2 linked regions of the Homo sapiens genome follow. The protein of the gene in region 2 interacts with the protein of the main gene of each other region in a biochemical or structural test. Each region holds a gene or a part of one and is shown on either strand. Other genes may lie near its edges.

What was found. Proteins that work in one complex are often made in the same cells at the same time.
Region 1: the proteins of ERG (region 2) and ELAVL1 form a complex in vitro, tested with the Homo sapiens proteins (one large-scale study listed by BioGRID).

The regions. Positions count from the first base shown.
Region 1 is NC_000019.10:8,002,329-8,007,101, reverse strand, and holds the start of ELAVL1 (ELAV-like protein 1), read left to right. Parts: upstream 1-1,460; 5' UTR 1,461-1,607; intron 1,608-4,773. UniProt on the Homo sapiens protein: RNA-binding protein that binds to the 3'-UTR region of mRNAs and increases their stability.
Region 2 is NC_000021.9:38,400,344-38,404,638, reverse strand, and holds part of ERG (transcriptional regulator ERG), read left to right. Parts: intron 1-929; coding exon 930-1,133; intron 1,134-2,001; coding exon 2,002-2,082; intron 2,083-3,993; coding exon 3,994-4,065; coding exon of another isoform or gene 4,066-4,277; exon of another isoform or gene 4,278-4,295. UniProt on the Homo sapiens protein: Transcriptional regulator. May participate in transcriptional regulation through the recruitment of SETDB1 histone methyltransferase and subsequent modification of local chromatin structure.

The DNA.
Region 1 (4,773 bases), on a different chromosome or scaffold from region 2:
CTTTGGGAGGCCAAAGCAGGAGGATCACTTAAGTCTAGAAGTTTGAGACCAGCCTAGGCAATACAGCAAGACCTCATCGCTACAAAAAAATAAAACATTAGCCAGGCATAGTGGCACATCCTGTAGTCTAAGCTACTCAGGAATCTGAAGCCGGAGGATTGATTGCCTGAGCTGGGGAAGTTGAGGCTGCAGTTAGCTGTGATCATACCACCGCACTCCAAATTGGGTGACAGAGTGAGATCCTGTCTCAAAAAAAAAAAAAAAAAAAGAAAAACAAAATTGTAGGCCAGGCGCAGTGGCTCAAGCCTGTAATCCCAGCACTTTGGGAGGCTGAGGCGGGCAGATCACGAGGTCAAGAGATACAGATCATCATGGCCAACACGGTGAAACCCCGTCTCTACTAAAAATACAAAAATTAGCTGGTTGTGGTGGCGCAGCGCCTGTAGGCCCAACTACTTAGGAGGCTGAGGCAGGAGAATCGCTTGAACCTGGGAAGCGGAGGTTGCAGTGAGCGGAGATCACGCCACTGCACTCCAGCCTGGCGACAGAGCGAGTCTCCGTCTCAAATAAATAAATAAATAAATAAAAATAAAAAGACTATTATTTTCAGATCATAAAAAAAAAAAAGAAAAAATTAGGCAGAGTGCAGGCATGCCTGTAATCCCAGCTCTTTGGGAGGCGGAGGCAGGAGAATCGCTTGAGTCCAGGAGTTCGAGACCAGCCTGGGCAACAGAACCAGAGCCCATCTTTACATAAAAAAAAATTAAACATGTAGCTTGCATGTATTTCTACTAGGGCATTCTAGGCCAGCGCTGGTTTAGAATGTTAGCCCAATAAGACCAGGTATTTTTTTTCTGCTCACTGCCCATACAGTGATTGACACACAGTAGGCGCTCAATGACATTTTAATGAATGAATGAGATGCTGAGCCTTCGGGAACTGGCTTGCTCAAAGAGCCAGCACCGATGAAGCGCTGACCACGTTCCATGCCCCGCCTCCTCAGCGCACCAGAGAAGGAAACTGAGGCCCGGCAAGGTGACGTCAGCTCCTGCCCAACGGCACGTAGTGCGGAAACGTCGGGGCCGGGATTCGAACCCAGGTTCTGTACCCGTAACCCCGGCGCGCTGACCTTTCCTACCTTACCGGGCGGCGGCAGGACAGACAGGTGCGGGACACACGGCGAGCGCTCAACCAGAGGCGCCGCTCCTCAGCCACCGCCTTCCGTCAGCCTCCGAGGGCCGGAACCCAGTTCGCCCCCTCCGCGGCCATCGCTGGCTGCCCGCGTCTCCGCCGGCCGCGGAGCACTTCGCAGGCGGCGCCGACCGGAAGTCCCGCCTCTCCCGCGCGCCCCGGAGCGCCGCGACAGCTACGCCGGCCAATGAGCAGCGCGCCGTGGCGGACGTCGGCCAATGGGCTCGCGCGCGGGGGGGGCGTGTCCGGGCCGCGGGCCGGAGCGGGTCGTGCGCGCTGAGGAGGAGCCGCTGCCGCCGTCGCCGTCGCCGCCACCGCCGCCACCGCTACCGAGGCCGAGCGGAGCCGTTAGCGCCGCGCCGCCGCCGCCTCCCGCCCGCCCCGGAGCAGCCCCGGGCCCGCCCGCCCGCATCCAGGTGAGGCGGTGGGGGGCCTTCGGCGGCGCCCGACGGGGTAGGCCGCGGCAGGCCTGAGCTCGCCTGGCCTGGCCGCGGGGCGCCCGCGGGCCTGCACCGGCCGAGGCCCAGGCCGCGCCGGACCGGGGGAGGGGACGCGCGCTGGGGCCGCGGCGGGCGGGTCGGGGCGGGCCGGTGTGGGCGCCGGCTACAGGCCCCGGGGCCGGATTCCTCTGGCGCCTCGAGGGACGGGCGAGGGGGATACGGCGTGGGCATGCGCCGGGGGGCCGGGCTGCACGGCCGGGGGCCCCGGTCGCCTTGGAAGCCCGGGCTCCGGGGGCGGGAGAGTGGGGCCAGCTACGGGGGAGCGCCGGGAACGCTTTGAGCGCGCAGAGGTCACGGCCCACGGGCTTGCTCCCCCGGGAAATCCCACAGATTCTTTTGTGGTCGTTGTCAGAGCACCGCGGCCGGTGCGAGGTCCTTTGAGAAGTGTGCAAACCCTTCAGTAGATACACGGGAGTCCTGGGGGAAAAAAAAAATCTAAACTGCATCTTTTTTTGAGCGCCATCTCTAACAAAGCTGTTTGTGGGGCGTGGGACGTTAGGATTTGTAAAATATGTGTGTGTGCCTGTTGGAAACACAAGCTGCACACAGTTGAACAATGGGGGATGGATGCCCTTCCTTCCTTTTCCGGTGCTCTGGGCTGCGGGGCTTGTTAAAATGGGTTTTGGTCCCTACTGTGTGCAGGGCAGGTGGAGAAGAACTTCTGCACAACTTCTGCATGGGCTTCCCGTGGTGGGACTGAGCCCCCTTGCTAGAAAGTGTTCATCTAAGATCCGGATGGCCAGAAATGGGAAGATGAGGAGAATGATCTGTCTAGAGCAGGGTTTCTCGACGTTGGCCCTACTGATGTTTGGGGTCAGATAGTTTTTGGTTGTGGTGGTAGTGGGGGCTTCCCTGTGCAATGTAGGAAGTTGAGCCGTATTCCTGGCCTCTACCCACTAGATGCCAGCAGTATCCCCATGCTCCAAGTCGTGAGGATCAAAAGTATCTCCAAACATTGCCAGATGGCTCGGGTTGCGGGGGAGGGGTCTCTTCCACTCTCACACGCACAGGTGAGAACCATTACTGAACTAAATGCTCTTCCTCCAAAAGTTCTAATGCCCTGGGAGATGCTCCCAAGACCTCGAACAAGCTTGACTCTGTTGAGCCTTAGTTTTCTTATCTATAAAATGGGAAGGACAAAAGTGTGGTGCAAATTGAAGAGGGTGGAAATCCCGTTGCGTTGTGCGTGGTCTGTGCCTGGTAGGCACTGAATAAATGATGTTGTACATAGCCACCAGTATTTATTGAGGATTTACTATGTGCTTGACACTTTGTGGACGTTTGTCTGCAGTCCTTGAGGCAGGTGATGTTATAATTTCCATTAATTTCCATTTTAGAGATGAAGAAACTGAGGCTTAGATGGGTCACTTGATGTGACCAGTCTCATGCACTAAAGTGGCTGCGCCAGGGTTTGAACTCGGGCCCTCTGATTCAAAACCCTTACTCTTAACCACTCGATTGTACTGCTCCTATAATCACAAGGCTCCAGGGCACTCCAGTTGTCATCGAATATTTTCTGTGTGCAAAGTTCTGTGCTGGGATCTATTATCAAATTCTGCAACTTCGAGGCCCACAAAGAGGTTGAGATACACGAACGTCTCAAATGTGGAAGGAAATAATACTGTTTATGTTGATGCATTGGTTTTGAGCAGACAGAGTTTCAGTCTGGATGTGTTGAGTCTGAGATCATGGTGCTATTTCTTTTTTTTTTTTTTTTTTGAGACGGAGTCTCACTCTGCCGCCCAGGCTGGAGTGCAGTGGTGCGATCTCGGCTCACTGCAAGCTCCGCCTCCCGGGTTCACGCCATTCTTCTGCCTCAGCCTCCCGAGTAGCTGGGACTACAGGCGCCGGCTACCACGCCCGACTAATTTTTTGTACTTTTAGTAGAGACGGGGTTTCACCGTGTTAGCCAGGATGGTCTCGATCTCCTGACCTTGTGATCCGCCCGCCTCGGCCTCCCAAAGTGCTGGGATTACAGGCGTGAGCCACCGCGCCCGGACCATGGTGCTATTTCTTTTTTTTTTTTTTTCTTTTTCTTTTTTTTTTTTTTTTTTTGAGACAGTTTCACCCTTGTTGCCCAGGCTGGAGTGCAGTTGTGCCATCTCAGCTCACTGCAACCTCAGCCTCCCAAGTAGCTGGGATTACAGGCAGCCGCCACCACGTCCAGCTAATTTTTTGCATTTTTAGTAGAGGTGGGATTTCGCCTTGTTGAGCAGGCTGGTCTCGAACTCCTGACCTCAGGTGATCCACCCGCCTTGGCCTCCTAAAGTCCTGGGATTACAGGTGTGAGCCACCGCGCCCAGCCCATGGTGCTATTTCAAGTAAAAGAAATGAGAGAATTATGAAAAAACTTTATGAAAATTTCTTGCCTCTCTCACTCTCCGCTTCCCATCTCTTCCCTCTTTCCACACTCCAGCAGGAGTTCTGTTCTGTAAATGCACATCTAATTGTATCCCTTCTGATTTAAAATCTTTGTGCAGAAAAAAGACACGTTTTCTTGACCTCTCTGGTGGCTTAAAAGATAAAGCTAGAAGCCCTTAGTTTGGAGTGCCAGTTCCTTCACACCCTAACCCTCCCCGCCCCTGCACGTAGACCCCAAACTCTAACCCTCCCTGCCTGTTGCAGCCTCCACCTGGAGACAGATCTCTTCCACCTGGAGATCCTTTGCTTATGCTCCATGGCTCAGCCCAGAGCTCACTGGCCGTTTGAAGCCTCGTCTGACTGCCACTCTTCCTCCACCCGCACCGGAATCAACTGTTCCCTCCTTAGTGTTCCCATCCCATTCAGTTTATTGAATCGAATTCAAGGCTGAATGGCGAGAGAAGCGCAGCGCCCGGCTGGCGCCCCTAGGTGGCAGTAGCGAGGCGGTGCGGCCGACCCGAGCTGTGGGTCAGGGGAAGACCAACGGAAGCCAGCCTGTGGGAGGGAAGTGAGGCTCGCTCCCTCCTCTGAACGACTCTCCCTGCTCCGCTGCTGTGTCCTGGGCCCCCGCTAGGCTCTGGAGAGTGTGCATGATGTGTGTAGGTCATCTCAGCCCACTCTGATGAGTGCTGTGAGAATTATGCCCTGGCTGATGTGGAAG
Region 2 (4,295 bases):
ATTAGAACTCAGGGCTCCAACTCCCTGCCCATGTGTCTCTCAGGGCTCGGGGCCCAAGGGAGCAGCCGCCCCATTTACCACACTCTGAAGACCCTACCACTGAGGGTGTTTACCACAGGACATCCCGGCTGGCGTTTCTGTTGGAGATCACCTGCTCCTTCTCCCCCGGGCCCTGCTCTCCCTGTCCCATAGGTAGCACTGGAGTGTGACGACGTGGCCTGCATCCTGTGGGGTGTTTGTGCTCGCCATGGCCAGCTGTGGAATGCAAAAACCACTCACCAACCCCACTCCTGCAGGTGCTGGTTAATTGCAAAACCAAACACCCTGCAGGAAAAGTCTGGAACTGACAGCTCTCTATGAGGAACGCTGGCTCATAGGAGGGGCTAGAGTCTTGGTGTATCTATATTTCATTTCCGATTCTGTGGTCAGTATTTTTCAGTATTTTGCATAAATACTGTTATTATTATTTTTGTTGTTGTTGTGATCTGTAATTAGCACCTTCCTGATATGTGTGGCTTACTCTTATTTCCATATAAATATATATAAATATACCAGTAGTTTTCTAAGGAAAAGAAGTTTCCTCTTATTCTTACTCATTTTAAAATAAATAAATAAAATTGAACATAAATGAGAAAAAAGAATTTTTAAAATCTTATGCCTACAGGAAACTTTAGATTGAGCAAAAACAAGGGCATGTGATGTGAATAATCCCAAGATTCCAGAACTATTCACTTTAAAGACAATGATCTATGGATGTGAGGCAGCTTTTGTCTTTCCCCCAAAATGTTCTCCTGGGTAGCCAGGGAGGCTGGCTGGAGGCTGTGCTTGTGGAAGGCAGCTGGTCAGAAATCCCACGTGGATGGGGATCTACCCCAAGATGAAGATCCCTGGCTTCAGGAATTGACTGAATGTGTTCCCACCCCTTTCAGATCCTACGCTATGGAGTACAGACCATGTGCGGCAGTGGCTGGAGTGGGCGGTGAAAGAATATGGCCTTCCAGACGTCAACATCTTGTTATTCCAGAACATCGATGGGAAGGAACTGTGCAAGATGACCAAGGACGACTTCCAGAGGCTCACCCCCAGCTACAACGCCGACATCCTTCTCTCACATCTCCACTACCTCAGAGAGAGTAAGCTCCCCCTTCCTCCAAGGATAGATGGCTGTGGCTATGGTTCTTATGACCTGAGCTTCAGAGGGTTCAACCAGGTGTGTCGACAGCATCCTCCTGCCCTCGCCCAGTTCCCACTGGGGATCCGAGGGAGCCACATGCTTGGTATGTGATGACTTAGGGGAGCAACACCCTGGCCACATCACCTGATGAGAAGTAGTCAGCGCTCTCAGGAGAAGCCAAAATTCACTTCAACACTCAGCTGCCTCCTCCAGGGTCCTGCGACCAAGAAGATGGAATGTCAAAGGGGAAAGGAAGCGTTAACTGGTCACACATTAGTTAAGTCTCCATGATACCCCGAATCGAAATAGAATCATTAAGGCTTCTCTTTCGTAGGAATTAGGGGGATTATTCTCCCTAAAGCTACATGAAGCCCCACTTTATATTCTAACCTGAGCACAGAACAAGGGAAGTTTTCACTTTGTATCATGTGATTCGGCTTAACCTGACAGAAAGGGATGGCATGTTGGCATGAATCCAGAATGTTTGCTGCATGCTTTAATTTCTACAACGTCCAGCATGGTGAGAAGGAAGTAGTGTGACAGACAGTGAGGTGGATAAATTCTCCTCCATTGCTTTGCCTGGCATCCCAACCACTTCTTCCCTGAATTAAAGACGGGCCCCCATGTAGGTTTTAACATGCTAACAAGTAGCAGGTTGCTGGAAATAGTTATAAGCTTCCCATGATGTTAGTGTGGGAGTGGGGGAACGGTTTTCTTTCTTTCTTTTTCTTTCTTTTTTTTTTTTTTTTTTTGTAAGAAAGGTAATTCTCTTTCTCTCTCTCTCTTTTTTTTTTCATTTTGATGTCGCTTTTTGTTTTGTTTTGTAGCTCCTCTTCCACATTTGACTTCAGATGATGTTGATAAAGCCTTACAAAACTCTCCACGGTTAATGCATGCTAGAAACACAGGTAATGCTGGCCCCGCCCCTGCCTCCCAGCAAGAGCGTAGGGTCTTACGTACAGGTTGCATGCTTTCATGGGAAACCAGTCAGCGCGTGCCAGGAAGACAGAACGCAGGTAGATGATTCAGAATACTTTCGGATACTTAGGAATGTACCACAGCCTAAAGGAAGGTGAAGCCCTTTGGTTTTCTGAGCGCTTCCCAAGCACCCCACTTTGATTATCAAAGGGTTCCTTTTTAACCAGGAGACGTGCAGAATTTGCCTTTAGCCATAACTTAGCTCACATTTGCCGGATTACAGTCTTCTTCTGTTGGTCCCAATATATTCGCTGTGCTGACTCTGTAGACACTAAAAGCATGTTCGATATAAAAGGGCCCTTAGCAACCTCCTTTAATTTTTTCCATTTTTATTCTTAAAGAAATATTTGCTAGGATAAGTTGGAATTTTCTTTTTCCTTTCCAATAAACTTTTAGGCTATTTGATTTGTTTTCCTACAGACTTTGTATGTTTGCAAAAGGCAGGAGGGAATTTCTGTAACATTTTGAGAGCTTTTGTTCAGAGGGAACCTCTGCTATAATTTTGGAGAATATGAAATTAGTCACTAACCAAATGCCTGTTTTCTATCTCTAACCGTTGCCTCTACATTTGACTTAGTTATGTATTTATTTTGCCTGAGCCTAAGTAGGGTTTAACACCGTGCCTCATCCTGGCTAACCTTCCTCCCTCGCCCCCCGCTCACAGCAGAGGCTGGGTTTTCTGTGGATGAATGTGTTCCTGGTTCACATCCATCTGCTCCTTCCTGATGGAGAGAGTTCCGGAAGCATGGCCACCGGCTGCTCACCCCACTCTGTTAGCTGCAGGGACCCTCCACAATCACTCGGGCTAGGGAGGGAGACGGGAAGTGCCAGAAAGCCTTGCAAGTCAGCCAGTTAACTCACGATCAGCCCTCACATAGAAATACGCAATTTTCCCAATATTTACCATTTTATTTTAAAATATAAAATGTGAGTGAGTCCCGGTTTGAGTATTACAATGAAATTGCTCATTTATCATGGTCTTCTATATTCAACACATTGTCTTTTTAATCTGAAGTTTTAAAAAACCTGCTTCGAGTTGGTAGTACACTTTTTCAATAATTTTGGTTGCACACATCAGCCTATTAGTGACCTTGTGGCCAGAAATAACAGATAACTTAGAGGAAGTTACTTCCCCTTCTTAGGAAACACCTTTGAGCTATGCACATTTTCTGATAATTTCACATTTATTTATGAGTTCTTTAACCATTGAGTGAAAGTTTCAAAAAAGCTCCAAATATATTAAATTTTGCTATTGTTAAACACGGAAGAAACCAATGAACAAGACAACAAATTCCAAATGGACTGAACTATGAAAAGGGAATTTTCTCAGCTAACAGCATGAGTTTTGGTCAAAAGAGAGAGAGGGAAAATGCATTTGAATAGAGATGTGGATTAATTATTAATAAAATCCATATACTCTTAGGCTAAATACTTATAATTGCTTGATACTACTTTCCAAAAGCTCTGTAAAATATATTATGGGTTTTTATACAAGTTGAAAAATAAAACATGTACCATATAATTTTTTAATAAAACGAGATTGCCCAGTGGGAAGTGGGATTGAGGGGGACACAGATAGGGCTTCATCAAGAAGTTATAAAATCAAAACACAAAACGCTTTATAGCAAACGGGGCACAGGAGTACACCAAGGCTCCAAGTTTCACTTCCATCTTGAGAATCTGACAGGTGCACCTGTCTGTTTCTCCGGAGCTCTGTTAAGGCAGGTTTGAGGAGGTCTCTTCCCTTTGTTGTCATAGGGAAAAGTAGATTTGGCGCTGATGTTGAGATCGACAACCACAACAAAAGACCTTCACATGTTTGTCTTTCCTTTTGTCTGCAGGGGGTGCAGCTTTTATTTTCCCAAATACTTCAGTATATCCTGAAGCTACGCAAAGAATTACAACTAGGCCAGGTACGAAAACACCCCTGTGTGATCTCTTCATTGAGAGACATCCCAGATGTCCTGCTGAGATCCGTGCCCTAAGTCACGTGATACAAAGAGAGCTGATCCCGGAGCTGAAGCCAGTCCCAGACAGTCTTATTCTGCCTCTGTTGATTTGGAGACTAAATCCACTCAAACCATTTCATTCAAAGACCACACTAAAGGAATTAAGAGCAGATTAGCCCTTTAACTAGCTTTTC